Linked DNA regions of Homo sapiens: region 2 is linked to region 1. Evidence: fine-mapped expression QTL. A gene starts in region 1. The other region holds a variant in brackets. All regions are shown on one strand. Distances are from middle to middle. Region 1 holds the start of ZNF217 (zinc finger protein 217). Region 2 has its middle 49 kb from the start of ZNF217.

Evidence for each region. PIP is the estimated chance that this variant, and not a neighbour inherited with it, causes the effect.
Region 2: its variant is fine-mapped to the expression of ZNF217 in whole blood (INTERVAL, PIP 0.96).

What each region holds. Positions count from the first base shown.
Region 1 is chr20:53,586,921-53,602,434 of GRCh38, reverse strand. It overlaps ZNF217 (zinc finger protein 217), which reads left to right and starts at 8,596. Exons shown (of 6, transcript NM_006526.3): 1 at 8,596-8,679. RefSeq lists enhancers at 3,635-4,135, 5,726-5,775 and silencers at 7,576-8,415, 8,506-8,585, 9,076-9,225, 9,646-9,885.
Region 2 is chr20:53,635,141-53,650,654 of GRCh38, reverse strand. No RefSeq gene overlaps it. Among named protein-coding and RNA genes, the nearest start is that of ZNF217, 49 kb to the right of the region's middle. RefSeq lists enhancers at 7,237-7,286, 7,327-7,376. The variant G/A (reference allele first, on the strand shown) is at 7,352.

The DNA of each region.
Region 1 (15,514 bases):
ACATTCTCTCTCCCAGCTCCATGGAAAAAGTACTCACTAATTGCTGTTGGTATATTAATTTGTATTACATTTTCTTCCCCACTTTCTTTTTATTTTGAGACAGGGTGTGTGGCCCAGGCTGGAGTATGGTGATGCCATCTCGGCTCACTGCAGCCTTGACCTCCCTGGGATCAAGAGATCCTTCCATCTCAGCCTCCTGAGTAGATGGAACCATGGGTGCCAACCACCATGCCCAGCTAATTTTTTTTTTTTTTTTTGAGACAGTCTCGCTCCGTCCCCCAGGCTGGAGTGCAGTGGTGCAATCTCGGCTCACTGCAGCCTCCGCTCCCTGGTTCATGCCATTCTCCTGCCTCAACCTCCTGAGTAGCTGGGACTACAGGTGCCCGCCACCACGCCTGGCTAATTTTTTTTGTATTTTTAGTAGAGACAAGGTTTCACCATGTTAGCCAGGATGGTCTCGAACTCCTGACCTCCTGATCCACCTGCCTCGGCCTCCAAAGTGCTGGGATTACAGGCGTGAGCCACCGTGCCCAGCCCTATGCCCAGCTAATTTTTATATTTTTCATAGAGACAGGGTTTCGCCATATTGCCCAGGCTGGTCTTGAACTCTTGGGTTTAGGTTAGCGCCTTGGCCTCCCAAAGTGCTGGGATTATAGGCATGAGCCACCGTGCCCGGTTTCCCTTTCAAAAGAGATTTCAGCTGGGCGTGGTGGCTCACGCCTATAATCCCAGCATTTTGGGAGGCCAAGGCGGGCGGATCACCTGAGGTTAGGAGTTTGAGACCAGCCCGGCCAACATGGTGAAACCCTGTTTCTACTAAAAATACAAAAAATTAGCAGGGCATGTTGGCGGGCGCCTGTAATCCCAGCTACTCAGGAGGCTGAGGCAGGAGAATTGCTTGAACCCGGGAGGTGGAGGCTGCAGTGAGCCGAGGTTGCATCATTGCACTCCAGCCTGGGCAATAAGAGCGAAACTCCGTCTCAAAAAAAAAAAAAAAAAAAAACAAACAAAAAAGATTTACAGTCTGTTACAGTCTGGTGAAAAAGAGGGTCCTGAATACAGGTATACCAAGAACTCAAGGGAGTGACACAGGTGGGAGGAAACTAGCCCTCAGGCAACCAAGTGAAACACTGTATTGCTGTTCCAGAATGTGGGGAAGGGAGGACAGTGGGTGCGGACGTTTCAACCTTGCCCCAGAGCCACACATGACTGACTGGTAAACATCCTGGAAATAGGGGGTCAAGAAATATGCATCAGTGCCAATTTTTAGAATTGAGGAAATTTAGGTTGGTGATAAAGGGGGAGTCTGACCTTGGGTTCAACTAGTGCATTGGCTTCATTGTAGTCGGGAAAGTAGGGAAACAAATTGTTAGCTGTGTGACCTCAGGCAGGTTACTGAATGATCCTGAGCCTTAGTTTTCTCTTTTCTCTCTCTTTTTTTTTTTTTGAGACAGGGTGTCACTCTGTCACCCAGGCTGGAGTGCAGTGGCGCAATTTCAGCTCACTGCAACCTCTGCCTCCCTTTGTGTTTTTAGTAGAGACAGGGTTTCACCATGTTGGTCAGGCTGGTCTCGAACTGCTGACCTCGTGATCCACCCACCTCGGCCTCCCAAAGTGCTGGGATTACAGGCGTGAGCCACCACACCCAGCAGGACTCCAACTTCTTACAGTTTGTCATATCCTCTTTGTTAAACCAGGATGGGGTCTTTTGGGAGACATTAACATCTCTTGGGAAAGAAACAGTTACTTGACGTTCAATGGTTCTTTTGGTTTTATTTCCATTTCCTTTAGTGGCTTCCCAGTGCTCTTGGAATAAATCCCAGAGTCTTAGCATGGCCCACCAGATCTTGACAGCCATGTTCTCAGGACTTTTGTTTTGTTTTGTTGTTGTTGTTTTTTTTTTGTTTAGTTGTTGTTTTCTGAGACAGGATCTTACTCTGTTGCCCAGGCTGAGTACAGTGGCACAATCTCGGCTTATTGCAGCCTCAACCTCCCTGGCTCAAGTGATCCTCCCACCTCATCCTCCTGAGTAGCTGGGAGTATAGGCACACAACGGCTAATTTTTTATTTTTTTGTAGACATGGGGTCTCGCTATGTTGCCCGGGCTGGTCTCAAACACCTGGACTCAATCAGTCCTCCCAACTCTCACTCTCAAAATGCTGGAATTATGAATTACAGACATGAGCCATCTCACAAGCCATCTCGCCCAGCCGGGAACTTTGTTTTTATTCTAAGATGCATGAGGGCTGTGTTATCGGGAATTTGTTTTTATTCTAAGACGCATGAGGGCCATGACATAACCAGACGACGACTTTTGAAAAGGTCAATTGTGGCCGCTTAGAATGGGACGGTCTACATTTCTGCCCTGTAAACACAGGGACCTCTCATGTAGAGACAAAATCAGCAGTTGGAAATGTGTTTTGGGAGTTGAGGGGAGAGTTCCAGGTGGGAAATATGGACATTTAGGAGCTTTCCAAATATTGATGGCATGCTGAAGCTTCGGACTGGATAAAATCACATGAATAAGAAAGTGTTGCTAGCATTGGGCCCTGGGCATGTCAGCACCTGGAAGTCAAAGAAGAGAGTCTAAAGAAGGAGCCAAGGGGACTGGGAGGGAGCAGCCAGCGAGGACTGACGGAGATCAGGATAGCATGGGGACCCAACTGCAAGGCAGGAAAGAGCTCTATCAAGTGTTGCAGATTTGGCAAATACTAGGGAACAGAGAACTGATCACTGATATCCTGCTGCAACGAGAGTCAAATCCCCGGTCTTCACACGGGCCTGCCTTGATTTCTTGCTCCTCTGTCCCTATCCTGTCTTCATTCCATGGCCCCCAGACACACTGGCTGCCTTCCAATTCTTTCTCCAAGCTTGGCTCTCTTCCTCTTTGGTCCTTCTCACCTTCTGTTCCCTCTGAATGAATGGAACACTCCTCCCCATCCCGGTATGATTTGCCACCTGACTTCCTGGGAGGTCTCTGCTCCTCAGGGAGCCTCAATCTATAACAGCAGGCTTTTCCCCTCTCCTATGACCCAGTCCCAGTAGGTTGTAAATATAACTACCAGTGTGTTGTCTGCTTCCCTCAAGAAGATAAGCCCCAATGGGACAAGGAATTCGTTTGTTTTGCTTAATGTTCTATCTCCCATGCCTAGAACAGTGCCAGGGCCCCCAAAACTCTAGGCTCACAAGCTTTGTAGTGTGTCTCATTTCATTCTCCAGAGTCTTGAAGAAATGTGACTATTACTTATATAAGTAACACAAACAATTATTATAATTGTCGTCTTCATCATCTTCATCATTCCCCTTTTATAGATAAGGAAACTGAAACCTGAGAGAGATTAAATAATATTCTAGGGTTATGCAGCTCTCCAGAGGTAGAATCTGAGTATCTGAGCCCAAGTTATTGGAGAGAAGATGTTCATGACCAGGACACTATGTCAGAGCCTCCCCCCTCCTCCCCCTCCCAGGGAACTAGGGGTTTTAAACCACTCTCAGAACAGAAGCCAAGTTCTTGAAGAGAATGAGAAAGGAGGTGCTAGGCAAGGGGAACCCCAGGGCTGAAGGCTCTAGGTCAGAGAGAAGGCTGGAGTTCAGATGCCTCAGTGAAGGGCTTGCCAGGACTTGAGGCTGGAGTTAGGCAGGGACCAGATCTGCAGAGCTGGTGGGGGAAGCTGTGGAGTTTTTTTTCCCTCAAGGCAATAGGAAGCCATTAAGGGGTGGTGAATTTATCTGATATCCGTGGTAAAAGTCTTTTTGGGTAAAAGTCTTGGATTATAGGTAGAGAAAGCATTAAGGGAAACCTAGAAAGGAAGAAGTTTGGAGAAACCTGCATATACAGTACTGTCTCTGTCTGGAGGAGAACACGTGATGGAGCTGACACCCTTTCTTCCCTTGCATTTGGGTCCCCATGCTCTCCTGCGGTCCCTCAGACCTCACTGCCTGCTCCCTCTCAGTCCCCTTTGCTCTCTTTCTCTTCTCCTTGACTTCCAGGCGCTGAACCACCCAAGGGCCCAATACTAGCACCTCTTTCGTGTGATTTTATCCAGTCTGATGGCTCAACATGCCATCAGTATTTGGAAAGCTCCTAAATACATAATTCTTACCGGGAACTCTCCCTTCCCAACACATTTCCAACAGCAGACTCCGCGTTCACGTGCATGGCACCTGCCAGTGGTACCTGGTGTAGGCTTTTGTTAGAGATAAAGATAAATGGACACAATTGAGACATATGAAGGTTTGCTGATGGATGCAAGGTCTGTGTAGGGTGGAGTAGATGGAGATGAAATATCCTGATTAGATTTTAAGATTCTGGCTTGAGATTATAATGATGATTGAATTTCAATTAATGTTAGTCACCCTCTTCTTCCCCTCCGTCCCTCATTCCAAAACTTCCTGTTTGGAATATCTAATGAAGGCAGAAAACTTTAAAGAGGCGTTCCCAGTGTTGTGTTTTGTGTGCAATTTTTAAGGGAGTTTTTACATTAACATTTTGAGTGAAGGTAATTTCAGAAAACTATCCAGAATATTAGAGGAGTCATGAGTTGTGTTTGCAGTGGGGGAGGGCACTCATCGAATAGGACAAATCCAGTTAAAAAATGCTGTCAACCTTATCAAGATTGACTAATCCAATCAAGTTGGGAGGGTACTGAAACCTTTATTTAAATTAAGTCTTATTCTTGACCCCTCCCTTTTTGCTGTGCTTATAAAAACCCGCAATCACATCTCTTCCAGTATTGTTTGGAGCCAGGTAGAGTGAAGTCCTACAGAGTTATCAGGTTCCAGACCCTGCCTTCTCTTCTGAAAGGTAAGTTCTGCTATATATATATATACATATATATAAATATATTTTTTTAATAGTATATTATTGTGATACTTTACAGAAGAGTGACTTGCATGGGATCAAGAAACTTAATAGAAAAGAGCAATGTGGTGCTCCTTCGAGCTGTTTGTTATTCCTACTTACTTGAGTGCATTTAGTCTTGTTCAAAGGGCTGTCCCTGTTTCCTTCTCAAATGTCCTTTGTAGTTTGCAGATGCTGGCAGGTTTGCCTAACTTTTTCATGTTCTTTTCCTGCTAACTCCTCACTGCAGTTTTTCAGGTTTTCCTGCTCTGAACACTGAATTCTTTTACGTCCCGTATCTATGTTGGCTCTGTTTCAGCTCCAGGGATTTACACACAGTTTCCAAATAGTTTTTCTATAATAGTTCCACAGTAAAATAACGTCTTGTGAAATAAGAAGATCCTACCTCATTCTGTTCTTCTAATTAAGGCTGAGTCTCAAAAGAGGATTCCAGTAAGTGTTAAATACAGCAAATCAGAAGTTTTTTTTTTTTTTTTCTTTTTTTTTTTTTGTTATGTTACTAGATCTGAGCATGCTGTGACTGGCAGGATCTGGATAGAAAATCAGATGTTGGCTAAACGAAGAGGCCTTATATCACTAGGATTAAATTAGAGATAATGGTGTGATTTTATAAGCGCATACTAGGAAATATGTCTTAAGGAGGGCCTGTTTGGATGATTGTGAAAAATGAGGTGTAGCTGATGTTTGCTGCATTGAAAGAAGGTGAAGTGGGGATTTTCTGCCCCTTCTCCAAGTACCATGTGCAGAGCTTCTCTTTTGGTTCCATTCTTTGTTTTTTTGCTGGCATCTAGTAGCACCTGACTCCTTTAGAGATGGCCTACGCAGGGAGTGATGGCGAAGCTGGATTTCTTGTGGGTGGAGCTAAGCATAGGAAGACCAACGTTCGATTTTCAATTTTCACTTTGTGCAGTATGAGTTCCTAGCTTTTATTACAAAACCAAATGCTTCCAGTGTTCTCCTGTTACTTTTGGAGTTTCCATATTTTAATTGTTTGAACTATACATGCTTTCCAAATAAATGGGAAGTATGAGTCTCACATTCTAAGGGAAGAATGTGTCTTAGGGAAAAGCCCTCCCAGGCGAATTCAGATCCCTCTATGTCCTTCTGAAAACACAGTATGTATTTGCAACCCAGCAGTCAGTCACTGGCAGAATTTTGCAACGATTTCCCAGTTTCGTTGGCACGACTCCAGGACAAGGTTCTTTGTAATTCTTTGCTCAAACATAAGGAGGATCACATATAAATAAAACTCTTAGCAGACAGATCAGTGAATTATAATCATCTTTCAGTTTTAAAAGCTACAACATAATAAGGCGCTCTCTTTTTTTTTTTTGAGAGAGGCGGCGAAACAGTAACAAATCATGATGCTATAATGTGAACAAAGTGGTAGCTTTGGAGGGCACAGGGGGAAAACAAGCACAACCGTTTTTGCTCAGAAAATAATTCAGTAGCAACAAGGTCTGAGAGCCAGGAATCTCCTTGTTCTTACTGAAACGATTATTTGTCAAAATATTTGATTGTTTCCCTATTCCCCCTGAAAAGTTTGGACTTTTCTTTTTGCTCGATTTTGACACTAGAATTTTTAACTATCAGTGCTATTGTGTTTACAGCATTCAAGGTCTCGGAGTTCAAAGGTTATCCATTAACATGTAGAATGAGGTTACACTTCAGGCTCAACCTGGTTCCACTTGGTCATAGTTTCTTTGTTGTGTAGCAAGGCTCATAGTCATTTGTTTTCATAAAGTTAAATGAAGTTTCTTGTTTATGAAGTGTTTTTGGACTGTGTTTTAGAATGTGACAATAAGTTTAAAAAATATATTTTAAAGATAGGTATTCATCCTTTGTCAGAAAAGGAATCCTAATACTAAAAGTGATCAATATCAGTGGACTTGAGTGAAAAAAAATTCACCCAATTTAGTTTTTTAGTGCTGGCCTAAGAATCTACTGGCACTGCTAATTAATTGTGAGTAATTGATTCGCTTCCTTTTTAAAAAAGACTAACCAGACCATATGTGGGGTTAGTAGTTATATATAAAATGACAGCAAAACATGACACTTGGCAAATTCTTCCCCTTTGCTGAGCTGTCTTCTCAAATTCCTTTTCCTATTTATTAAGATTGCATTGCTCACCAGCTCCGGATCGTTTCTGTAGTGCGTTCTTTCTTTTGATTTAGGAAATAGATATTTTAAATGCTTTTCTTGATGTGTTTTAAAGTTTTTTCATTTTGGATATGCTGAAGGCCGGTAAAAACACAAATATTTGGCTATTTTGTTAGTAGCGACTTGCATAGATCCATTTCACATTTGCATTAGTTTGCATTTTGGGGTAGAAAAATTGTGGATGTGCTTGTTATGTCTATGGTTCCTCGAAGCTTATTTAAAATGGGGAAATATCACAGGCCTTAGGAATCAGGATCTTTTTTTTGTCCTTTTTTTCAGTAAGGAAAGAAAACATTTGGGAAACGCTTTAAATGAGTTGTGCGTAGGGAGGAGGGGAAAGGGTAGCGGTTTTTTTTTTTTTTTTTTTGTCCCTTTTTTTGTCCCCGGTTTCCTCCAAATGGATTTCTATCAAAACCAAGTAGATTCTTGGAACCTAGGCTAAGTTTAGAAATCTCAAGTTAGAATAGCGCAAGCCCAGCCCTTTCAGAAAAAAAAAAATCACAACAATTAAATAGCTTTCTGAAGATACTCATTTAAAAACTGTTTATCTTCTCGACCTTCCTCAAGCTTGAAGAAAATCTTTGGTGTTTTTCGCGCACAGCTGCCTTCTAACCCGCGAGCAACGGCGTTAAGGTTTTTGTTTGTAATTCGGGGTGACCCAGGGGTTCGGGCCGCGGGCCCCTCCCCTCGCCCGCGCACACCTTGCAGAGGAGGGGGCGGCGGGGACAGGGCCGGATCTGCGCCTGCGCACACCCTCGCGGCCCCCTCCCTCCGGCCTCCCCGGGTACCTGTCACGGCTACCGCCGCGGCGCGCGCCCGCCACGTTAAGCCGGATGGCGGGAGGAGGGGTGCGGGGCGGGGGGCGCGGGGAGGGTGGCACGGCGCGCGCGTGCGCGGGAGTCGCCGAGCGAGAACTGGGAGTGCGCGCGCTCGCCGCTCGCTCCCGTCCCGGAGGCGGAGTCGGCGGCGGGGGGCGGAGCAGGGGCGCGCCTATGCTAGTCACGTGGGCGCTGGGGCGGGGCCGGGGCGGTGTGGGGCGTGGCCGGGCGGCCGGTGAAGGCAGGGGGCGGGGCGGCCGGTGAAGGCAGGGGGCGGGGCGTCTCCGAGCGGCGGGGCCGAGGGAGGGCGCAACAGCTGCTCCCTGAACACTTTCTGACCCAACAGTCCCCCAGCGCCGGACGCGCCGCGCCCCGGCGGCTCTAGGGACCCCCCGCGCCTGCACTGTCCCCGCGCGGACGAGTAGGGGGCGCCCGCGCCTTTGCCCCCGTGCGCACCCCCGCCCCGCTCACCTTAGCCCCGCGCCCGAGGTGAGCCCGGCCCCTATATTCTCCGGGCGGGGGTGGGGGTGGGGGACGCTCCTTTTTTGTTGGGGGGGGGTCTTGGAGGCGCGAAGGCACTAGGCTCCTCGGCGGATGGCTGCACCCCTCGCCCGCGGCTCCCCGTGTCTTTTGGGGGGCCGGGTGCGGGCGCGGAATCCGGGAGGTGTCCGCACAAAAGGCTGAGAGAAACTCCGCGACGCCTCCCTCCCTCCCTCCGCCCTCCCCGCCCCCTCCCCTCCGCGCCCGCTCCTCCTCATTCAAACCCGGCCGGCCCGAGTGGTGTCAGCTCAGTCCCGGCCGCCGCCGCGCGAGGAAATGGCCGAGGAGCCGGAGCCGCAGGTAAAGGGGGCGCGCCCCCCGCCCGCGCCAGCCGGGGCGCCCGCCCGGTCCTGCGGAGGCTCCCGCGCCGCCCCCGAGGCGCCCGGCTCTCGTTGTCTTGTCCCCCCCCAGGATGACCTCAGTTCCCCGTCTCAGCTTTCTATCCGCTCCTCTAGGGCGCCCCCTCCCCAGCCGGCTCCTGCGCTTCCGCCCGCGGGAAGGTGCGGGCGATCCCGGGCTGCATCCGCTCTTGGCCGTCACACTCACGCCGCACGATTCAGAGGGGCTTGGGGTGCGGGGTTCCCTGAATCTCCGCCGGGAGCGGGGGTCTGCGGGGGTGGGCGGTGGGGGGCTGTTCCGAAAAGTTGGGTCGCCCCGCGGGGCGGGTCTCCCAATTTGCCCAGTTGGCCCTTGGGGCGCGGGCGGAGGGGGAACGTCGGCGTAGGGTCCCCCCGCGATGCCCGGGGAAGGGCCGGGGCAAGTTGGAAGCGGCCAAAACAATGCGTCCGGACGGGCATCCCCCCGTAAACAATGGCCGGGACGGTCCACTCGGGCCGGGCGGAGGGCGCCTCTAAGGGACCGCGGGAGGGGCTGGGCCTCGCCGCGGACCCCGACGCGCGCCCCGTGACTCCCTCGGGTGCCCAAAAATCTGTCCCCGGGAGTCTTGGGGCGCCTGCTCATCCCTGAACAGGGATGCACGGGGCTGCGTTTCCTGGATGTGTGCGATAAGGTGGCTTTTTTTTTCCCTCCTCTAATTTTAAAGATTTTTTTAAGTCTTAATGTTCTATAAACACTTAAAGAATATCTTTACAACTCAATTCTAGTGGAACACCCAAAGCCAGCTGGAAGCAGAACTGGGAACTCTAAAGGGCAGGAAGGATTGAAATGCTAGCCCAAAAGTGCTGCTGCTTTTTTTTTTCTTTTCTTTTTTTTTTTTTTTAAGGGAAGTTTCTGCCAGGAGGTGCCGAGTGGTGAAACCGCTCAGTTTCAGGCACAGCCCTCTTGTCTCTCGATTTGGCCCCGACTGCGAGCCGGACGGGATGGTGGAGAGGCGGAGGGCGCTGCTGGGGGCCCGGGAGGCTGGATTTGGGGCTGCCTGGGCGGTCCCGCCCGAGGGGCAAGACCCGGCACGCGGGGCGCGCGCCGGAACCTGGGTCCCGGGAGTTTGAGAAGATGTTCAGGGCCCGGGTTGGAACCCACATTTTGGGATTCTGGGTAGGGCCACCGAAGACGGGAAGGCGCTTTCTTGGGCGGGTGGGGGTGGGGTGAGCAGGCAGGGAGTTTTCCGCCAGGTTTAGTTACAGGAGCTAGAAAAGGCCACTTCTGGGACCCTGGCATCTGGGCCGCCCTGAGAGCCCCAGAAACTTTTTTTTCTTTTTCTTTCCCCCCACCCCCCAGAAAAGGGTAGTCATTTCAGGTTTAAGGCTTTGGTGTATTGTTCTACCTCGAAATTCCTTGAGCCTCAGTTTATCTTCCTGAATCAGTCTATGGGGCTTGGAGCGTTGAACATTCCTAAACACGGAGAAAGTAAATGGCGGTTGCAGTGGTCCACTGGCCAGTTTGGGGGTCCTGTATTATTGGCCACTGTGTGTCCTACAGCGTAGCTAGGTTTTTCAGTTTTCTAGATCGTTTGGAAGCATTAAGCTGTATGTTTTAAGAAGCCTAGGTCTGATTTAGTTCAGGTTGATTCAATTATGTCTTCATTGCTTTTGAGTTGGTTGAATGACTTGACATGAGATTAAGCTCAACAAAAGAAAAGGCGAGGTAGCAACAGCTGCCGTCCAGGCCTGGCCACTAGGTAGGGGTCTTAGGAGGCCTTTTACCTTCTCTTTTGTATATGTCAAGAAGGAGATTTACAATGTTCTTATTTTACTGTACTTCTTTCCCCTGAAGTGGATGTTCTTTCTTGATTGATATCAAACAAGACTTAAAATGCTAAGTTTTATGATACTTAGACAACGAGTAATAGATGTAGTTTCTAAAAGCCTTGATGTGTCTGCAGTGACAAGTGCAGAGGAATAACCTCATTGCTTTTTGTCTGAAAATATAACAGGCAAGCCACTAGTTTGTGCTTACTTAATGTGTGCTAAGAACTTTTAAGGTGTGTCCTTAATGGTAGATAACTTTTTTCCTTCTGGGAAGTCATATTTATTTTAGATATTGTTTTGTTCAGGGTTCTGGAGACTAATAGTGTTTCGTTTTGTTTCTTAACCCTGATGTTGCTGCCATTTTTAATCGGTTATATTTAAATTCAAGAGGCAGTAAGTTATTTAAAATACAGTTGTCAGTAGTTCCAAGGCAGATTCATCATTTATTTTAATTGTTAGAATAGGATTAATAATCTGTTTGTTTGGAATTTTAATGATTTGGCGTGATGAGGAAAGCTAGTCCTTTAGAATTGTCTTTATTTGCCTACAGAAGGAGGAAGTAGAGGACAAGATATGACTTTTATTGGTGAAGGACACACACTTTTTTCTTTAGTGTCCCACTCTTTTAATCCTTTTGTCTTCACAACACTTTTCTAACGCTTTGCAGTTTGACCTTTGCTGTTTTTTAGTAACTTGTGAGATCGAAGTTTAGCAGTTGTGTTGGGTTCCTATTCCCTTTCACTTCTTACTCAAAAAAAGGAACTAATACACCACTTAGAAAAAATTTGTAGAAAACTTTTCTCCCCTTTACCCTGAGGAATCTATTTTGGTTAACAGGTCAAAATTTTTTTCCAGGTAGTAGGGGAGGAAGGAGGAGCAGTGAAGGTTTTGACTTTGACTGCCTTTACTTTTTTAAGGTGGGGGTAGATTTGCATTTTTCTTTGTGAGCCTCCATTTTTGGCAGGAAAACTTCAGGGAGGAGTAGGAGCCCCTAATCCCCTTCCAGTGGACTTGTTTTGGAGGAAATCTGAAAATAAGACTTAATCATCAAGTCACTTATAAACTGATGAAATAATTAAGGAATATAATGGCCTGGCAATGACTAAGTCCTTCTATCTCCTCATTGCAGATACATGCTAATCACTTTTTTCTCTCTTAACAACATTTATTATGAAATGGCATGTTTTTGCCACAGCAGGGTAGCCATTTCCCAACCCTGGAGCACTCTTAATTCTGAGATGCCTGATTAGAGCCTCAGGGGTCCCAAAAGATGTGCTGTTTTCCCACTTTATAAAATTACATTCTTTTCTCACAGTTGTCACAAACATGATATTGGTTGATAAGAACTTTGGAGTAGTTTTAATGACTCTTGACTGCCTGAAAGATGCCACTTTAAAAAAGGAGCTACTTTTAGCTGACTCTATTTGAAAGTAAATGATTGGACCCTTTTTATGTTTTATATGAAGCTTTGTTTCCATTTGCTTAAAAAAAAAATTCAAATTGTCCCATCTCCTGTATGCCCATATGGCCTGTATGTTATAGATTTTGAGGTTGCTGGGTATGATTTGTTTTAAATCGTTCCTTCCTAATTTCCCATTTCAGTTTAATCCCTGAGCGGAATGTTTAATGAATGAATTGGGAAGGTGAAGCTGAAGGACTGAGCAATGGCTGTTTTCAAGCCTTAGAATTAGAAAGTAGGAATGAAAAACATGAGACAGTTGCATAAACTGAGTATTCCACTAATAAAATAAATGTAATAAGATTTTAAATCCAGTTACTACAATTGAAATCTAAAAACAGAATAGTTTTTAGATTACTGGGATGTTAAAAAATAAAAACCTGAAAGGTATTTACAGAACAGCTACCAACATGGAATTAAAGGAATCTCAATCTTGTTAAATATTCTAAAGAGGGAAGGGTTTGGTTACAGCATGTAAATTAAACTTGAGACAATGGCGGGCGGGGGGGTCTTGATCCGCACACCTCTTCTCCAGATTCTGCGGGGGGGAGGGGTGTTAAAATTTAAACGCACATGGAAGAAAAAAAAAATGTATTACACAAAGACGGCAGGAAATTTCTTAAATTCGGGTGAAGGAAGCCTGATTATTGAATATCACTTAATGGCCTCATTTTAGAGGCAGTATAAAAACTTTTCTGAAATGCTCATGTTTTTGGAGTAAGGTGAACTGGGTTATTTTTCCCCAACCAGTAATAACAGACAAATTTGCAGTGGTATCTGGGGCAAAGGTTTTTGAATTTAGACCACGAGGAGAGATAGAAATCTGACTTTAAGGAAGTGGAAGAACAGGGACCATTCTTTCCTAAAATCTGCAGCTCACGATGACATGCTCAATTCTTGTACACATCTATCTTCCAGATAAATAGGGGGGAAGCCCCCGCTAGCCAGCTGCCGCCACATATTACCCTTTTATATTTAACGTTGGAATGCTTTCCATTTGAACATTTGTTGACTGACTGTTCTGAACATCTCCATTACTTCCTGTCCAGGGTATCAGCATAATTGAGTTACTGGAAATTTGGGGACAGTTTGGTAATTTTATGATAAAGTTGAGAAATAAAATTACTAAACCTGAAAAGACAGCTGAAGAAGTTGTATGAGAGAGTTAGTTGGATTCCTTACTTAGCCTTTGTTCTTATTAAGCTTTACAAAACTTGTTTCTGACCTCCACATGACTGTACTTCCTATAGAAAAGCTCCCCCAGACTCAGAAGCTAGGTTTTTAACAGACTCGTGTAGTGTTTCTGTATTGGTGTTCCATTATTTTCTGGTGTGTCTGGAAACCTTTGGAATTTAAAATGTAGTTAAGTGGACTGGAAATGTAGACTCTAGACATTTCTTGAATCAGCGTTAGGAGTAATAGTTACTTTTACTTCTACCTCTATCAAATAAGGATAACAAAGCATCTCAGTTATACTGAAGTGTTTTTGTTTCTTTTGTAATCAATATAGAGTTTTTCTTCAGTTTATAAATCTACTGAACAATGATTGTATTACTAATTGAAAGGAGACTTTTCCCCTTGATTTTGAAAGCAAACAGGTGACTGGAAAGAGCCAGATATACAACTTTAGTATGTAGTCAGCAAAAGATAGGATGGGGAGGGGAATATTTAAATCTTGCAGAAGAACGATCTTATGCCTTAAAAGGCATTGCCTAAGCTTGTATTTAACTAGGTTACTTGAATTGTGTTTAATTGAGAGCGCTCATTGGAAGAAGTGGTATGGTGTAGTGGTCTAGTAGTGGGCATAGTTGTGTGTGTGTGTGTATATATATATATATATATATATATATATATAGATAGATGTGTGTATACACACGTTCAGTGTTTTCATTACAGAGAGTTAGTGCAGGTAAAGATAGAACAGTTTATTAACAGTTAATTAATTTGCTGAAATCTTTTTTTTTTGGTGCAGTTAGGCCTGTCAAATTTTTACAGATATTTAAGGTTGTACTGGTTAAGTAGTAGTAATAGGAGAAACGGATAGCAATGCTTAATCTTGCTTAATTAAAGTTTTTAAAAATTCACTTTCCTTATATTATAACTTTTTTTCAGATCAGGATGTTTTTAAAAACCACTTTGCAGATGACAGTATCTGTTAATATTGAAACTAAAACTAGTATGTTATACTTTAAGTTCTTACTAAGATCCCTTAACTGACCTTAACTGATTTAAGATGAATTCAGGCAGTTTCTAGTTAATGACACTCAAATATGCTATATGATTATATTTTTATAGTACTTTGGTCTCTAATCCTATTTAAAATTGGTAATTTATGAACAATTTCAGCAAAATGAAATTATTTCCTTTACAAGCTTCCCAAGTTGAAGAGTTTAGGTTGTAACCTTAAACTTTGAATATTCCAATCTTTTTCTTTCGCTTAACTTGGAAGCATCTTTCCACAGCTAAATTAGGAAAGTTGGGTTGACCATTTAGCCTCATGGGTGTGACCCCTAGTAATTTCCTTGAAACAGTGTTGAAGAATTTAGAGCATTAAAAATAAAAAATAAAAAAACCTGTAGCTTTTTGATTGTTAGTAGATGGCTATGCAGAGTTTTCTCCACTTGTCAGATTAAGAAAAAATACTGTGCGTAAAAGACAGAGGAAAAACTTTCAGAGAAAATGTAAACTTCTAGCCAGGTCTTGGAGATAATTTTGTAGTTTTCAGGGTACAAATGCATTGGCCAGAGAATAGCAATTTAAGTTGAATTTTTTAATAACTCCTTATTTGGACACCTCAGTAACTTGGGAAAAAGTAGCTTTGTTAGCAGTATGACAAATTGTGTATAAATATAATTTTTCTGTGTTTTTGAGGACTTTGAATACCTTATTCAAAGCTGTATTATGGTAGATGCATATTCCATATCAACAATGTAAGATAACCTGTTAATCAGAAGAAACAGAGGCTGTGCTGTTTCTAAAAGTTAACAGTTTGAGTACATCAGGATGTAAAGAAAAATATTCCCAAGTTACAGTAATTGTCAGCAAAGTGGCTGTTGTACCTAGTTAGTTGTACTTAAGCACAGATTACTGTGCTTTTTATTAAGCAGTGTAGAATGTGTCCTATTTGCTGATTTCAAGATCTACAGGTAGTGGTAGAATTCATGGTAGCTTTAGTCACAAATCAGTGTGTAATTAGTGACCTAAAGAACATCACACTTCTATTCCAGCCTTTTCTAGCAATATGGTTCCTACTGGATTTCAAAGATTACGCTCTGGTAAATTTTAAAAGTATCTACTGAAATAATCCCAATAGAAGTTTCTTTCAAAATATGGCTATACTCAATAGCCCACTTGCCTTAGGTGTTAGGGGGTATATGAGTTAAGTTCTGTCGTTTACCTGAGTAAAGATTTTAAAATGTTTTTAAACATTGGAAAACATTTTTGTGAAGTACTTTTCAGTAAGCTTAGCGTGTTCATAACGCTCACTTTCTTGCAAGCTAGAAGCATTTAGATTATAGTGTTGGATTAT
Region 2 (15,514 bases), 48 kb before region 1:
ATTCTAAAGTGCACTTTAGTTTTTACATTTTAATATAACTAAAATCAATATGTATTTTGCAGTCAATGGCATCTTGCTATTATTTGAAAACATTTATTTAATAGTCCGTAAAATAATGGAACATGCCCAGATGCAGTGGTTTATGCCTGTAATCCCAGCACTTTGAAGGGTCAAGATAGGAGGATCGCTTGAGCCCAGGAGCTCGAGACCAGCCTGGCCAATATAGTGACAGAGACCCCAACTCTACAGAATAAATAAATAAGTAAATAAAATAATGGAAAATCTCACAAATGGTGACGTTTTAGGTTCGACAAAATACAGTAACTAGCCCATTTAGTTTTCTGAAATTTTGATGTTATTGCTTAAATATTTGTTCTGTGGTACACAACCGTAGGATTAATAATATTGATGAAAATAATAAAAGAGTAATAAGCATGTATTGAGCTCTTCCTGTGTGAAGTTCTGGACAAATCCTCATAAAGCCTTAAAAGGCAGATACTAAGCTGGGCGCAGTGGCTCATGCCTGTAATCCCAGCACTCTGGGAGGCCAAGGCAGGCAGATCACGAGGTCAGGAGATTGAAACCATCCTGGCTAACATGATGAAACACGGTCTCTACTAAAAACACAAAAAATTAGCCAGGCATGGTGGCACGTGCCTGGAGTCCCAGCTATTCGGGAGGCTGAGGCCGGAGAATTGCTTGAACCTGGGAGGCTGAGGTTGCAGTGAGCCAAGATCACGCCACTGCTCTCCAGCCTGGGCGACAGAGCAAGACTCTGTCTCAAAAAGAAAAAAAAAAACAAAAACAAAAACAGGCAGATACTAGGCCAGGCACGGTGGCTCATGCCTGTAATCCCACACCTTGGAAGGCCCAGGCGGGTGGATTATCTGAGGTCAGGAGTTCGAGACAAGCCTGACCAACATTGTGAAACCCTGTCTCTACTAAAAATACAAAAATATTAGCCGGGCGTGGTGACAGGCGCCTGTAATTCCAGCTACTCAGGAGGCTAAGGCAGGAGAATCGCTTGAACCCGGTAGGCGGAGGTTGCAGTGAGCCAAGATCTTGCCACTGCACTCCAACCTGGGCAACAGAGGGAGACTCCGTCTCAAAAACAAAAAAAGGTAGATACAATCCCATTTTATCCCATTTTGCAGATTAAGCAACGGGAGCAGAGAAACTATTGCAGGGCTCACCTTGCCATCCTTACCCTAATATCAGTTCTGTCATTATATAAAAGTTTGATATTTTGTTCATCATGGGCTGTTTGCATTTATTTTGATTTTTTTTTTTTTTTGAGACACAGTCTCACTCTATTGCCCAGGCTGGAGTGCAGTGATGCAATCTCGGCTCACTGCAACCTCCATCTCCTGGGTTCAAGTGATTCTCCTGCCTCAGCCTCTTGAGTAGCTGGGATTACAGGCACGCACCACCATGCCTGTCATTTTTTTTTGTATTTTTAGTAGATCCGGAGTTTCACCATGTTGGTTAGGCTGGTCTCGAACTCCTGACCTTGTGATCTGCCCGCCTCAGCCTCTCAAAGTGTTGGGATTACAGGCGTGAGCCATGTTGCCCGGCCTATTTTGATTTTTTTTATTTTTCTTTTTGAGATGAAGTCTTGCTGTGTCACCCAGGCTGGAGTGCAGTGAAGTGATCTTGGCTCACTGCAACCTCTGCCTCCCAGGTTCAAGCAATTCTCCTGCCTCCGCCTCTTGAGTAGCTGGGACTACAAGCGTGTACCACCACGCCTGGCTAATTTTTCCATTTTTAGTAGAAACGGGGTTTCACTATGAGGGCCAGGGTGGTCTCAAACTCCTGACCTCAAGAGATCCGCCCACCTCGGCCTCCCAAAATGCGGGGACTACAGGTGTGAGCCACCATGCCTGGCCTATTATTTTTTTTTGAGTCAGAGTCTTGCTGTGTTGCCCAGGCTGGAATGCAGTGGCTCAATCTCGGCTCACCACAACCTTCGCCTCCCAGGTTCAAGCGATTTTCCTGCCTCAGTCTCCCGAGTAGCTGGGACTACAGGGGCATGCCACCATGCCCAGCTAATTTTTTTTTTTTTTTTGACATGGAGTTTTGGTCTTGTTGCCCAGGCTGGAGTGCAATGGCACGATCTCAGCTCACCGCAACCTCTGCCTCCTGGGTTCAAGTGATTCTTCTGCCTCAGCCTCCCGAGTAGCTGGGATTACAGGCATGCACCACCATGCCCGGCTAATTTTGTATTTTTAGCAGAAATGGGGTTTCCTCATGTTGGTCAGGCTGGTCTCAAACTCCCGACCTCAGGTGATCCGCCCGCCTCGGCCTCCCAAAGTGCTGGGCTTACAGGCGTGAGCCACTGTGCCCAGCCTAAAGTATTATTTATATAGGCCCAGTGCAGTGGCTTATGCTTGTAATATCAGCGCTTTGGGAGGCTGAGGTGGGAGGATGGCTTCAACCCTGGAGGTTGAGACCAGTCTGGGCAACACAGTGAGACCCCATCTCTATATAAATAATTTTTTAAATAAAACATTGAAATAATTAATTAATTAATAATTAGCCAGGTGTGGTGGTGCACCCCTGTGGTCTTAGCTACTCAGGAGGCTGAAGTGGGAGGATCACTTGAGCCCTGGAGTTCTAGGCTGCAGTGAGCTATGATCGCACCACTGCAACTCCAGCCTGGGTGACAGAAGAAAAAGAAAAAAATCGTATATATATGTATAATTTATGTAAATCACTGAGTTTTTGGCATCGTCGAAATATTGTGCCTGGCCCTGGGTCAAGAACAAAAATTATGATTCTGGTTTTCTGACCTTAGGCCCCGTTTCCTTCAGAGCAATTATCACGATTATTAATAATGAACTTGTTTGCTCTCTTGATCGCTTTCAGCCTTTCTTGACTAAAACATACACTCCAGGAGAGCAGGGAAAATGTTCATTGTCAGGGGTTAGAACATAACCCGCTAACAGGGCACGGTTGCTCATAACTATAATCCCAGCACTCTGGGTGGCTGAGATGGGCGGATCACTTGAACCCAGGAATTTGAGACCAGCTTGGACTACACAGCAAGACCCCCATCTCTACCAAAAAATAAAAAATTAGCCAGTTGTGGTGGCACATGCCTATAGTCCCAGCTACTGGGGTGGTTGAAGTGGGAGGATCACTTGAGCCTGGGAGACAGAGGTTCCAGTGAGCCAAGATTACGCCACTGCACTCCAGCCTGGGCAACAGAGCCAAAAAAACAGAACCTGCTTTCATACTTTTCAACAAATTAGCCTCGAATACCTCCGAGATGTCATATTAGGTGCCAAATACAGCTGTGAGCAGGTTTCTGTCCTCTTGGGGTTACTGTCTTTGTATAAAAAAGTAAAAAATAATAATAATAAATCCATGGCCAGGCGCAGTGGCTCATACCTGTAATCCCAGCACTTTGGGAGACCAAGGCAGACGGGTCACTTGAGGTCAGGAGTTCCAGACCAGCTTGGCCAAGCTGGTGAAAGCCTGTCTCTACTAAAAATACAAAAATTAGCTGGTCATGGTGGTGCACACCTGTAATCCCAGCTACTCGGGAGGCTGAGGCAATGAACCCAAGAGGTTGAGGCTGCAGTGAGCCGAGACCGTGCCACTGTACTCCAAACCTGGGCAACAGAGTGAGACCCTGTCTCAAAAAAAAAAAAAAAAAAAAAAGAGAGGGAGAGAGAGAGAGAGAGAGAGAGAGATGAGGTCTCCTTACGTTGCCCAGGCTCATCTGGAACTCCTGGGCTGAAGGGATCCTTGGCCTCAGCCTCCCAAAATGCTGGCATGGGGGAGCCACTATGCCTGCTGCTCTTGGGAATTCTTGAGTGTTGCCTCTGGTTAAGTTCTACTTAGAAGTTAACATTCTCCCCAAGGCCAGGAGTGGTGGCTCACACCTGCACCTGTAGTCCCAGTAGTCCCAGCTACTCAGGAATCTAAGGCAGGAGGATCAACTGAGCCCAGGAGTTCAAGGCTGCAGAGCTATGATCATGCTGCTGCACTCCAGCCTGGGCGAGAGAGTGAGACCCTGTCCCTATTAAAAAAAAAAAAAAAAATTCTCCCTTACAAACAAAATGCTCATTGACTGTAATTAGAAGTGCCCACGCTGGGGACTGGTATGGCACAGAGCTCTACTTTGAACTGATTTTCAGCTGGAGTGGTGAGCTAATGATATCTCGCTCCATTCTTTTTCTGCCCTCTTTCTTCTTTTTTTTTCTTTTATTTTTTTTTTGAGATGGCGTCTCGCTCTGTCACCCAGGCTGGAGTGCGGTGGTCCCATCTCAGCTCACTGCAACCTCTGCCTCCCAGGTTCAAGCGATTCTCCTGCCTCAGTCTCCCGCGTATCTGGGATTACAGGCACTTGCCATCATGCCCAGCTAAATTTTTTTTTTTCCTGTAGAGACAGGGTTTCACCATTTTGGCCAGGCTGGCCTCGAAACTCCTGACCTCAAGTGATCTGCCTGCCTCAGCCTCCCAAAGTGCTGGGATTATAGGCGTGAGCCACTGCGCCTGGCCTCTCCCCTCTTTCTTCCTCTGCCTCTACCCCATGATGCACCAACCAGTATTCAGGACCCAATTTTATTTTGTGTCTGCTCTAAAAGCTAACTTTACCAGGGGTTTAGGCCATTAAAACACATTATTTGAAGTTTGCAGAATGCATTTACATTTTATGATCATTACAGCTTCAAAAAAAAAAGATGGTAATGTTGGTTTCCTTTCACATTGACCAACTTCTCTTCACATAAATACAAGCCAGTTGAATGGCATTCCAATATTACATAATTATTTGCACTCTAACTGAAATTACGGAATACTGAAAAAGTAGATTGGGATTATTTTAAATTGAAACTGTGCCCAAAGTTTTATTACTTATCAACTTTCTCTGAATGCTATATCATGACAATTATATTTTATTGTCATGAATTATGTTAACTTCATATTTCACAAAGCACACACTACATGTGCAAGGCCTTTGCTGAACCCAGGGAAAGGAAGAATGATAAACAGAAGCTGATCTTTGCCTTTGAGTTTACTTAACATATAAATAGCAGGTATCTTCCAGATGCGAGTAACTGTACTAAATACTTTAGATTAGGGGTCAGTAAACATTCTGCAAAGCATCAGCTAATACCTGTTTTAGGCTTTGAGCGCTAGAGGCTTTGTCTTAACCGGAAGTAGAACAGAGGCCATTGCCAATATGTAAATGAGTAGGCTCAACTGTGTTCCAATAAAACTTTATTTACAGAAATAAGCAGCTGCCCAGATTGACCTAGATGGCTGAGACCTGCTTTCAATGGATTGTCATCCATCTGTCACAGCCCACTCTTTTTTTTTTTGAGACAGAGTCTTGCTCTGTCGCCCAGGCTGAAGTGCAGTGGCATGATCTTTGGCTCACAGCAACCTTTGCCTCCTGGGTTCAAGTGATTCTCCTGCCTCAGTCTCTAAGTAGCTGGGATTACAGGTGCGCGCCACCATGCCTGGATAATTTTTGTATTTTTAGTAGAGACGGGTTTCATCATGTTGGCCAGGCTGGTCTTGAATTCTTGGCCTCAGGTGATCTACCCATCTCAGCCTCCCAAAATGCTGGGGTTACACTGCGCCCAGCCGCACAGCCCACTCTTAAGACTAGCACTATTATTATTATTATTATCATCATTTCATTTCATTTTATTTATTCTTTTGAGACATAGTCTCATTCTGTTGCCCAGGCTGGAGTGCTGTGGCCTGATGTCGGCTCACTGCAACCTCTGCCTCCCAGGCTCAAGTGATTCTCATGCCTCAGCCTCCCCAGCAGCTGGGATTACAGGCACCCGCCACCACACCCAGCCTGGGCGACAGAGAGAGATCCTGTCGAAAGAAAGAAGAAAGAAAGAAAGGGAGAAAGAAAGAGAAAGAGGGAGGGACAGAGGGAGGGAGGGAAACCACCTGAATATTTGTGTTAGCTTAAACTCAATTTCAGCTGTAATCATGGAAATCAAATTTATATAAGAAAATATCAGATTAATTCAGTTTTCATACACACATTCACTCGAATTTTTAAATTTCATCAATTGATTTTAGAAAAGAGCAGCATAGTGAAAAAAAGTGAAGAACTATATTCTTGCCAAATTTATACCTAAATTTTACTGAAATATTAATTAGTTTTTTTTGTTGTTGTTTTTGTTTTTCTGGAGACAAGGTCTTGCTTTGTTGCCCAGGCTGGAGTTCGGTGACAATCTTGGCTCACTGCAGCGTCAACCTCCCAGGCTCAAGAGATTCTTCCACCACAGCCTCCAGACTAGTTGGGACTACAGGTGCACACCACCACAACCAGCGATCTCGGCTCACTGCAACCTCTGCCTCCTGGGTTCAAGCAATTCTCCTGCCTCGGCCTCCCTAGTAGCTGGGATTACGGGCATGCACCACCATGCCCAGCTAATTTTGTATTTTTAGTAGAGACGGGGTTTCTCCATGTTGGTCAGGCTGGTCTCCAACTCCCTACCTCAGGTGATCCACCCACTTAGGCCTCTCAAAGGTGCTGGGATTACAGGTATGAGCCATTGCGCCTGGCCCATTTTTCATAAGAATTATAAAATTGCATTGTTTCTGACATGGGCGTAATCTATGATCTGCCTTCACCAAAAACATGCAGAGGAAAATAAAATACATATTTTTTATTTTTAGTTTCTCTGCTCTTTTGGCTTTATTGTTTGAAATCTTTTTATTAGTAATAGGTATGTTTGGTGTTCACTTTTTCCATACAGTGCATTAATGTGTGGTTTAAATACAAATTTAAGTGCAAAATTATAAGACAGTAGCCTGGAAAGGCCCATTTGGGCAGATGTGGCTTATTAAAAATCCCAGCTGGGTGCAGTGGCTCACCCCTGTAATCCCAACATTTTGGGAGGCTGAGATGGGCAGATCACCTGAGGTCAGGAGTTCAAGACCAGCCTGACCAAGATGGTGAAACACTGAGTCTACTAAAAATACAAAAATTAGCTGGGCATATGCTGGGCACCTGGAATCCCAGCTACTCAGGAGGCTAAGGCAGGAGAATCCCTTGAACCTGGGAGGCAGAAGTTGCAGTGAGCCAAGATCGTGCCATTGCACTTCAGCCTGGGTGACAAGAGCAAAACTCGGTGTCAAAAAAAAAAAAAAAATCACAATTTTTGGGTTTCTTTTAAAACTTAAAAATGGAGGATGAATTTCCAGCATCCTGCTACTCGGACGGAGGAAACAGAACAGGAACAAAGCTGAAGTGAGCTAGGCAGGCCGAGGGAACCTCTGGCTGCCTCCCATTGCTGCTGCACGCAGGTAATGCAGCGGTTCATAGCCTGCCTTCCAGCCCTGGTGTTAGACGACTTTCAGTTACAGTATTGTG[G/A]TGAATCATTTCCTTCCAAGGCTCAGGGTGATCTATCACACGGGCGTGTTGTCTAGATTTTAACAACAATATGAGCAGAAAAGTTCCTCATTCCAGAAATGCAAAACAAATTACATAAGAAGTGTATTCTTTAAAGGAAAAAGCAAAGTCTACATAAAGGCATAATGAATAGGAAGAACAATTATGCGTGGGAAAACAAAGCTCTTTAAAAAAATCATCAAAGAAATGAGGTTTTTCTTCCCTTGTCTAATTTATAACAGTGACGTTCCTTTTGAAGACAGGAGCAGGGGCATAGGAGCTGGAGTATCGGCCTTAGCTGTGCCTTTTGTAATGTCACTAGGGACAGGGAGGGGGAGGAGTTGTGACGGTGTTGGAAACACTGGCCCTGGTGTATTATTGCTTGCACTACAGGAGTTTTTGGTTGCCAAATCAATACCTTGGTTGTCCTTGAAAAACCCTGCAGGTCTGTTTTTAATAGCTTGCTACACCGGTGAAATTACCCTGATTACTTAGCAAAGCCTCACCTTTGATCCACTGATCTAGTTAGAGACCTGTGTGAGAGAGAGAGAGCCTGTGGCCCCAGAGATATTAACAAATTAGAAGAAGAAGGAAGGGAAAACTGCAACTTACAGAAATACAGGAAGTCTGAGGTTTGTCAGTTGTTGAAACATTTGATATTGTCTTTTAAGAGTCTCCGTGGTCTGAGAGCTTTCTTTGGGATAACAAAATACTAACATTAAAGAGCAACGTTCGGGCACAGTGACTCACGCCTATAATCCCAGCACTTTGGGAGGCCAAGGTGGGTGGTTCACGAGGTCAGGAGTTCGAGACCAGCCTGACCAACATGGTGAAATCCTGTCTCTACTAAAAGTACAAAAATTAACCGGGCATGGTGTCATGTGCTTGTAATCCCAGTAGGAGAATCGCTTGAACCCGGGAGGCGGAGGTTGTAGTGAGTCGAGATCGCGCCACTATGCTCCAGCCTAGGCGACAGAGCAAGACTCTGTCTCAAACAAACAAACAAAAAAAGAGCAACAACAATAACACCACAGCAAAGCCACCTGCTATTCAAAATCAAGAACAGTGGATCAATCCAAATTAAAGAATGGTGGCTGGTATTGTTTTCCACCTCACTCTCCCAAGAGATACATATGCCCAAAAACATTTCCATTTCCTGTTCATGCAACAGTGAAGTGAAGGGTCATTTTCCTTCCAATTTTTGTACTCATTAGACAGAGTGCCTTTTAAGCATTTATTTATTTTTAAATTAACAGACTTTATTTATTTATTTATTTTTGAGAGGGCGTTTTGCTTTTGTCACCCAGGCTGGAGTGCAATGGCATGATCTCGGCTCACTGCAACCTCTGCCTCCTGGGTTCAAGCAATTATCATACCTCAGCCTCCTGAGTAGCTGGGACTACAGACGTGTGCCACTAGGCCTAGCTAATTTTTTTGTATTTTTAGTAGAGACGGGGTTTCACCATTTTGGCCAGTCTGGTCTCGAACTCCTGACCTCAGGTAATCTGCCCGCCTCAGCCTCCCAAAGTGCTAGGATTACAGGCATGAGCCACCACGCCCGACCCAGACTTTATTTTTTTAGAGGAGTTTTAGTTTACAGAAAATTGACCAGACGGTGTGACAAGTTCTCATATGCCCTCTTCTCCAACTCCCTCCTTCCATCTGTACAATTCCCCCTATTAGTAACATCCTGCATTGATGTGGTCCATTTGATACACTTGATGAACGAATAGTAATACATTATTACTAATTAACGTTTATAGTTTACATTACAGTTCACTCTTTGTGTTGTACAGGACTATGAGTTTTGACAAATGCATAGTGACATGTATCTACCATTACAGTATCATACAGAATAGTTTCACTGCCCTAAAATACCCTCCTTTTATATTTCAACAAGCTGCCCTTCCAAGTTCTGTCCTTTCAACATAACTGCTCTTTTTTTTTTTTGAGACAGAGTCTTGCTCTGTCGCCCAGGCTGGAGTGCAGTGGCTCGATCTCGGCTCGCTGCAACCTCCGCCTCCTGGGGTCAAGCGATTCTCCTGCCTGTCTCCCGAGTAACTGGGATTACAGGCACACACTACCACACCTGGCTAATTTTTAAATATTTTTAGTAGAGACAGGGTTTCACCATATTGGTCAGGCTGGTCTTAAGCTCCTGACCTTGTGATCCACCTTCTTCGGCCTCCCAAAGTGCTGGGATTACAGGCGTGAACCAATGCACCCAGCCCATAACTGCTCATTTTTTCTCGTTTTTCCTTCTCCAAGGTGCTTTTATTTTAGGAATAGATGAAAGTTGATTCTCTTTGTTGGCAGAGACCTACAGAAAGTCATTTTGTGGCCAAGCATAGTGGCTCACGCCTGTAATCCCAGCACTCTGGGAGACCGAGGCGGGTGGATCATCTGAGGCCAGGAGGTCGATACCAGCCTGGTCAACATAGGGAAACCCCATCTCTACTAAAAATACAAAAATTATCAGGTTGTGGTGGTGCACGCCTATAGTCCCAGCTACTCAGGAGGCTGAGGCGGGAGAATCCCTTTAACCAAGGAGGCGGAGGTTGCAGTGAGCCAAGATTGGACTCACTGCACTTTAGCCTGGGCAACAGAGCAAGACTCTGTCTCAAAAAAATAAAGAAGGCCGGGCGCGGTGGCTCACGCCTGTAATCCCAGCACTTTGGGAGGCCAAGGCGGGCAGATCAGGAGGTCAGGAGATCGAGACCATCCTGGCTAACACGGTGAAACACTGTCTCTACTAAAAATACAAAAAATTAGCCGGGCGTGGTGGAGGGTGCCTGTAATCCCAGCTACTCAGGAGACTGAGGCAGGAGAATCGCTTGAACCCAGGAGGCAGAGGTTGCAATGAGCTGAGATCATGCCATTGCACTCCAGCCTGGGCGACAGAGTGAGACTTTGTTTGGCTGCAACTTGGATATCCCTGTAAAGTCTTCCATCCTGGTGTTCGTATCTTCACCCATGCAGAATCAGACCAAAACTTGCCTTGCCAAACACCCAAGAGAAGCCCCTTCACCTGCAAAGATAGGGCAGACAAGGAACTGGAAAGGGACTGTCTAACCATTGCCTGTTCCTCCCGTCTCATCTCACTTTATTTTATAGTTGTCTATCCTGATCGTCATATAAAACTGCCCAAACTCAGGAATGTTTTATCTTGCCCTCCTTGTCTGGAAGGTGCACTCTCTGGTTCCCAAGTCCCCTCTGTTACTGCCTGCATGTCTAGTGTTGAAGCCTGTGACTGAGCCCAAAGCCTTCTCCTAAACTGAGTGTTTATGGGGTACATTGCTAGGCTTTTGGGTAGAAAATGCAGAATGTAAATAGCAGAAAATTATTGTACCTCCCTTATTTACTCATTAAATTTAACACATATTTGAGTTTCTATGATGTCAGGCTTTGCTCAACGGTAAGACAATTTCCGTGCCCTAGTGGAAGCTTACAGTTTCACCAAAGAAGACAAACACTAAACATACAAATTTATAGGTAGAAAGAAAATAAAACAGGGTCATGGACACAAGATGAATGGGGAGCTGTTTGGTTAAAGGAGTTGGGGAAGGTCCCTGCAGTGCTCATATTTGGACCAAGCTATGAATAAAGTTAACCAGCAAGCCATGCAAAAGTCTATGAGTATTCCAGGCAGAGGAGACTGCAGACAAAGACCCCAGGGCTGAATGAGCTGGCTCGGCCAGAAGAAAGGAAAGGATAGTGCAATGATATTAATAGCTGATAGGCCAGGAGAAAATTGGTAAGACTAGTGCTCTGGAAACATTGACATGGTAAGAACTTTAGATTTTATTATGCAAAAAGATGAAAGCCCACTGGAGAGGTCATCTGTGGGATGGGGTAAGCAATAAGCATGGTATGAGTTACATTTTCTCTTTCCCATCTGCATCCCTTGTCTCAGTGATGTCGTCCAGTGCTATGGCCCTACGATGCTGACACCCACATATGTATCTCAAACTTAGACCTTTCCCAGCTCTTGCTTTCCATATCCAGCTACTTACTTGACAATTCCACTGGAACATCCAAAAGGCATCTTAAACTTACTATAACACAAACTGAGTACCTTGTCTTCCTCCCACAGTCTTCTCAGTTCTGGTAAAGGAGAGTCCAGCATTTATTGGCTTAGGCCAGAAACCTCGGAGTCATCCCTGACTGCTCCCTCATGTATCTAGTCTAGAGCAAATCCTGTCTATTGTACCTTCAACATGGATGTAGAATCCCACTAGATAAATTCCAGCTCCTCTGTCAGCTCCCTGGCTCAACCCCTCATCATTTGTCATCCAGATTATTAGAATGCCTTCATTGCTAGTTTCACTGTTTCCATTCTTGCCCTCCCTTTCACTCTATCTTTCACTCTATTCTTTTTATTTTTTTTGAGATGGAGTCTCACTTTGTTGCCCAGGCTGGAGTGGAGTGGCGTGATCTCGGCTCACTGCAATCTCTGCCTCCCGGATTTGAGGTATTCTCCTGCCTCAGCCTCCCAAGTAGCTGGGATTACAGGCAAACACCACTACACCTGGCTAAGTTTTGTATTTTTAGTAGAGACGGGGTTTTGCCATTTTGGCCAGGCTGATCTCGACCTCAGGTGATCTACCCGCATTGGCCTCCCAAAGTGCTGGGATTACAGATGTGAACCACCGTGCCCAGCCAGTCTATTCTTAAAATAGAGAGATCCTGTTAAAATAAGCCAGACCACATCACCGCTTGCCTCAAAACTGCCATGGCGGGTGGGTGCAGTGGCTCACAGCTATAATCCCGGCACCTTGGGAAGCCAAGGTGAGAGGATCACCTGAGGACAGGAGTTTAAGACCAGCCTGGGCAACGTAGTCAGACACTATCTCTACAAGAAATTTTAAAATTAGCCAGGCATGGTGGCTCATGTCTGTAGTCCCAGCTACTTGGGAGAATGAGGTGGGAGGATCACTTGAGGCCAGGAGGTTGAGGCTGCAGTAAGCTATGATTGCACCACTGTGCTCCAGCCTGGATGACAGAGCAAAACCCTATCTCTCTCTCTCACACACACACACACACACACACACACACACACACACACACACACACCTGCCATGGCTCCCATCTGCCTCAGGCTAGGAGCAAAGACTGTGCGTGATCTGGTCCATCCTTGCTTTCTGACCTCATCCACTCTGCTCCAGTCATAGTGAGTTTCATGCCTTGCCAAGAACACAGCAGACATCCTATTTCAGGGTCTTTGCATTTGCTGTGACATCTGCTAGAATATTCCCCCAGATAAATGCATGACTGGCTCCCTCACCTGCCTCAGGTGTCTCTTCAAATGACATCTTAGGGCAGGAGTCAGCGAATGGTTAAAAACCAGAGAGTAGGCTGGGCGTGGTGGCTCATGCCTATAATCCCAGCACTTTGGGAGGCCAAGGAGGGCGGATCACCTGAGGTCGGGAGATCAAGACCATCCTGGCTAACACGGTGAAACCTCTTCTCTACTAAAAATACAAAAAATTAGCCAGGCCTGGTGGCACATGCCTGTAATCCCAGCTACTCAGGAGGCCGAGGCAGGAGAATCGCTTGAACTTGAGAGGTAGAGGTTGCAGTGAGCCAAGATCGCACCATTGCGCTCCAGCCTGGGCAACAGGAGCGAAACTCCCTCTCAAACAAACAAACAAACAAACAAACAAACCAGAGGGTGGATATTTTAGGTTCTGTGGGCCACAGGGTCTCTGTGGCAGATACTCAACTCTGCCTTTGTCAGGCAAAAGCAACCACAGACAGTAAGTAAACCAATGAGCATAGCTGTGTTCCAATAAAACTTCATTGATACCGGGCACGGTAGCTCACGCCTGTAATCCCGGCACTTTGGGAGGCTGAGGCAGGTGGATTACCTGAGGTCAGGAGTTCAAGACCAGCCTGGCCAACATGGTGAAACCCCATCTCTACTAAAAATAAAAATTAGCCGGGCGTGGTGGCACACCCCTGTAATCCCAGCTACCCGGGAGGCTGAGGCAGGAGAATTGCTTGAGCCCAGGAGGCAGAGGTTGCAGTGAGCCGAGATCATGCCATTGAACTCCAGTCTGGGCAACAGATCGGGACTCAGGGTAAAAAAAAAGAAAAAAAAAAAAAAAAGAAACTTCACTGTGGGCACTGAGATAGAATGTCACATAAGTTACTTTCAGGTGTCAGAAAACATTCTTCCTTTGACTTTTTTCAACTATTTAAAAATGTAAGACAATTCTTAGCTTGCCATTGTACATAAACAGGCAATAGGCTGGATTTGGCCTCAGTCCGTAATTAGTTGACCCCCTGCCTTAGGGAGTACTTCCCTGGCCATGCTCTCAAAAATTACAAACACACACACAATCCCTATTCAACCTATCCCTTTTCCCTTTCCTTTCCTTTCCTTTCCTTTCCTTTCCTTTCCTTTCCTTCCTTTCCTTCCTTTCCTCCTCCTCCTTCTTCTTCTTCCTCTTTTTCTTCTTCTTCTTCCTCTTTTTCTTCTTCTTCTTCCTCTTCTTCTTCTTTTTTTTTTTTGTTTTTGAGACAGGGTCTTGCTCTGTTGCCCAAGCTAGAGGGCAATAGCATGATCATGGCTCACTGCAGACTCAACCTCCTGGGCTCAGGTGATCCTTCCACCTCAGCCTCCCGAGTGGCTGGGACCACAGGCATGTGCCATCAAGCCTGGATAACTTTTTAAAAATTTTTGTAGAGACAAGGTCTTGGTACATTGCCCAGGCTGGTCTCAAACTCCTAGCCTCAAGCAATCTTCCTGTCTCAGCCTACCAAAGTGCTTAAATTGCAGGTATGAGGCACTGTACCTCGCCTTTTCTTTTCTTCCTTTTCATTTCATTTCTTTTCTTTACTCTTCTCTTCTTTCTCTTTTCTTTCTGTGGCCGGCCTTTCCTTTCTTTTCTTTCTTTCTCTCTTTCTTTCTCTTCCTTCCTTCTTTCCTTCCTTCCTTCCTTCCTTCCTTCCTTCCTTCCTTCCTTCCTTCCTTCCTTCCTTCTTCTTTCCTCTCTCTGTCTCACTCTGTCATCCAGGCTGGAGTGCAGTGGCACATTCCTAGCTCACTGCTGCCTCGAACTCCTGGGCTCAAGGGATTCTCCTGCCTTAGCCTGCCCCTGAAGTAGCTGAGAGTACAACTGGGCGCCAACATGTCTGGCTAATTTGTTAATTTTTTTTTCTTTTTTTTTGTGGCCGAGCTCAGTGGCTCAGGCCTGTAATCCCAGCAATTTGGAAGGCCAAGGCGGTGGATCACCTGAGGTCAGGAGTTCGAGACCAGCCTGATCAATATGATGAAACCCCGTCTCTACTAAAAATACAAAAATTAGCCGGGTATAGTGGCATGCACCTGTAATACCAGCTACTAGGGAGGCTGAGACAGGAGAATCGCTTGAACTGGGGAGGCAGAGGTTGCAGTGAGTCCAGATCATACCATTGCACTCCAGCCTGGGCAACAAAAGCGAAACTCTGTCTCAAAAAAAAAAATTTTTTTTTTAAGAAATGGAGTCTTGCTATGTTGTCCAGGCTGCTCTTGAGCTCCAGGCCTCAAGCGATTCTCCCAGTTTGCCCTACCAAAGCATTGGAATTACAGGCAGGAGCCACTGCACCCGGCCCTATCCTTCTTTCTTAACAGCTTATCATCATTTGCCTTTCTCTATATTTAACTTACTGTCTTGTTTATCTTTTTTTTACTGACCCCTCCCAAACCCCTAAGCTGTTACCTCCATGAAGACCAAGGTTTCTGTCTGTTTGCAGTAATGTGTCCTGACGTATCTGGCATATAGTGGGAACTCAACAAAGATCAGTGGCATGAATGGCACTGTGAAGAGAAGAGCCTGGAGGGGAAGTTGGGGTGGAGCTGCAGAGAGTGCTTAGGAGGCTACTGCTGTTGTGATGATCAACTTGATTCTTCAGCCTGGAGCCTTGAGCCTCGTCTCCAAGGGGCAAGGCGGGGAGAGGAAGGTGCTCTTGTTGGGTCCACTGCGCCAGCATCGTGCTTCAGGCTTCACATGTGATGGGCACAGAATACTTTTCAGCTGAGAGCAAATTTAGGCTGGAGAGCAGATGTTTTATGGATGGTGACATCATGTGGTGGGCAGAGAGGCTGTGGTTCTCAGGCCTGGGTCTGCATCAGAATAACTTAAGGGAATCTTCCAGAAAGAA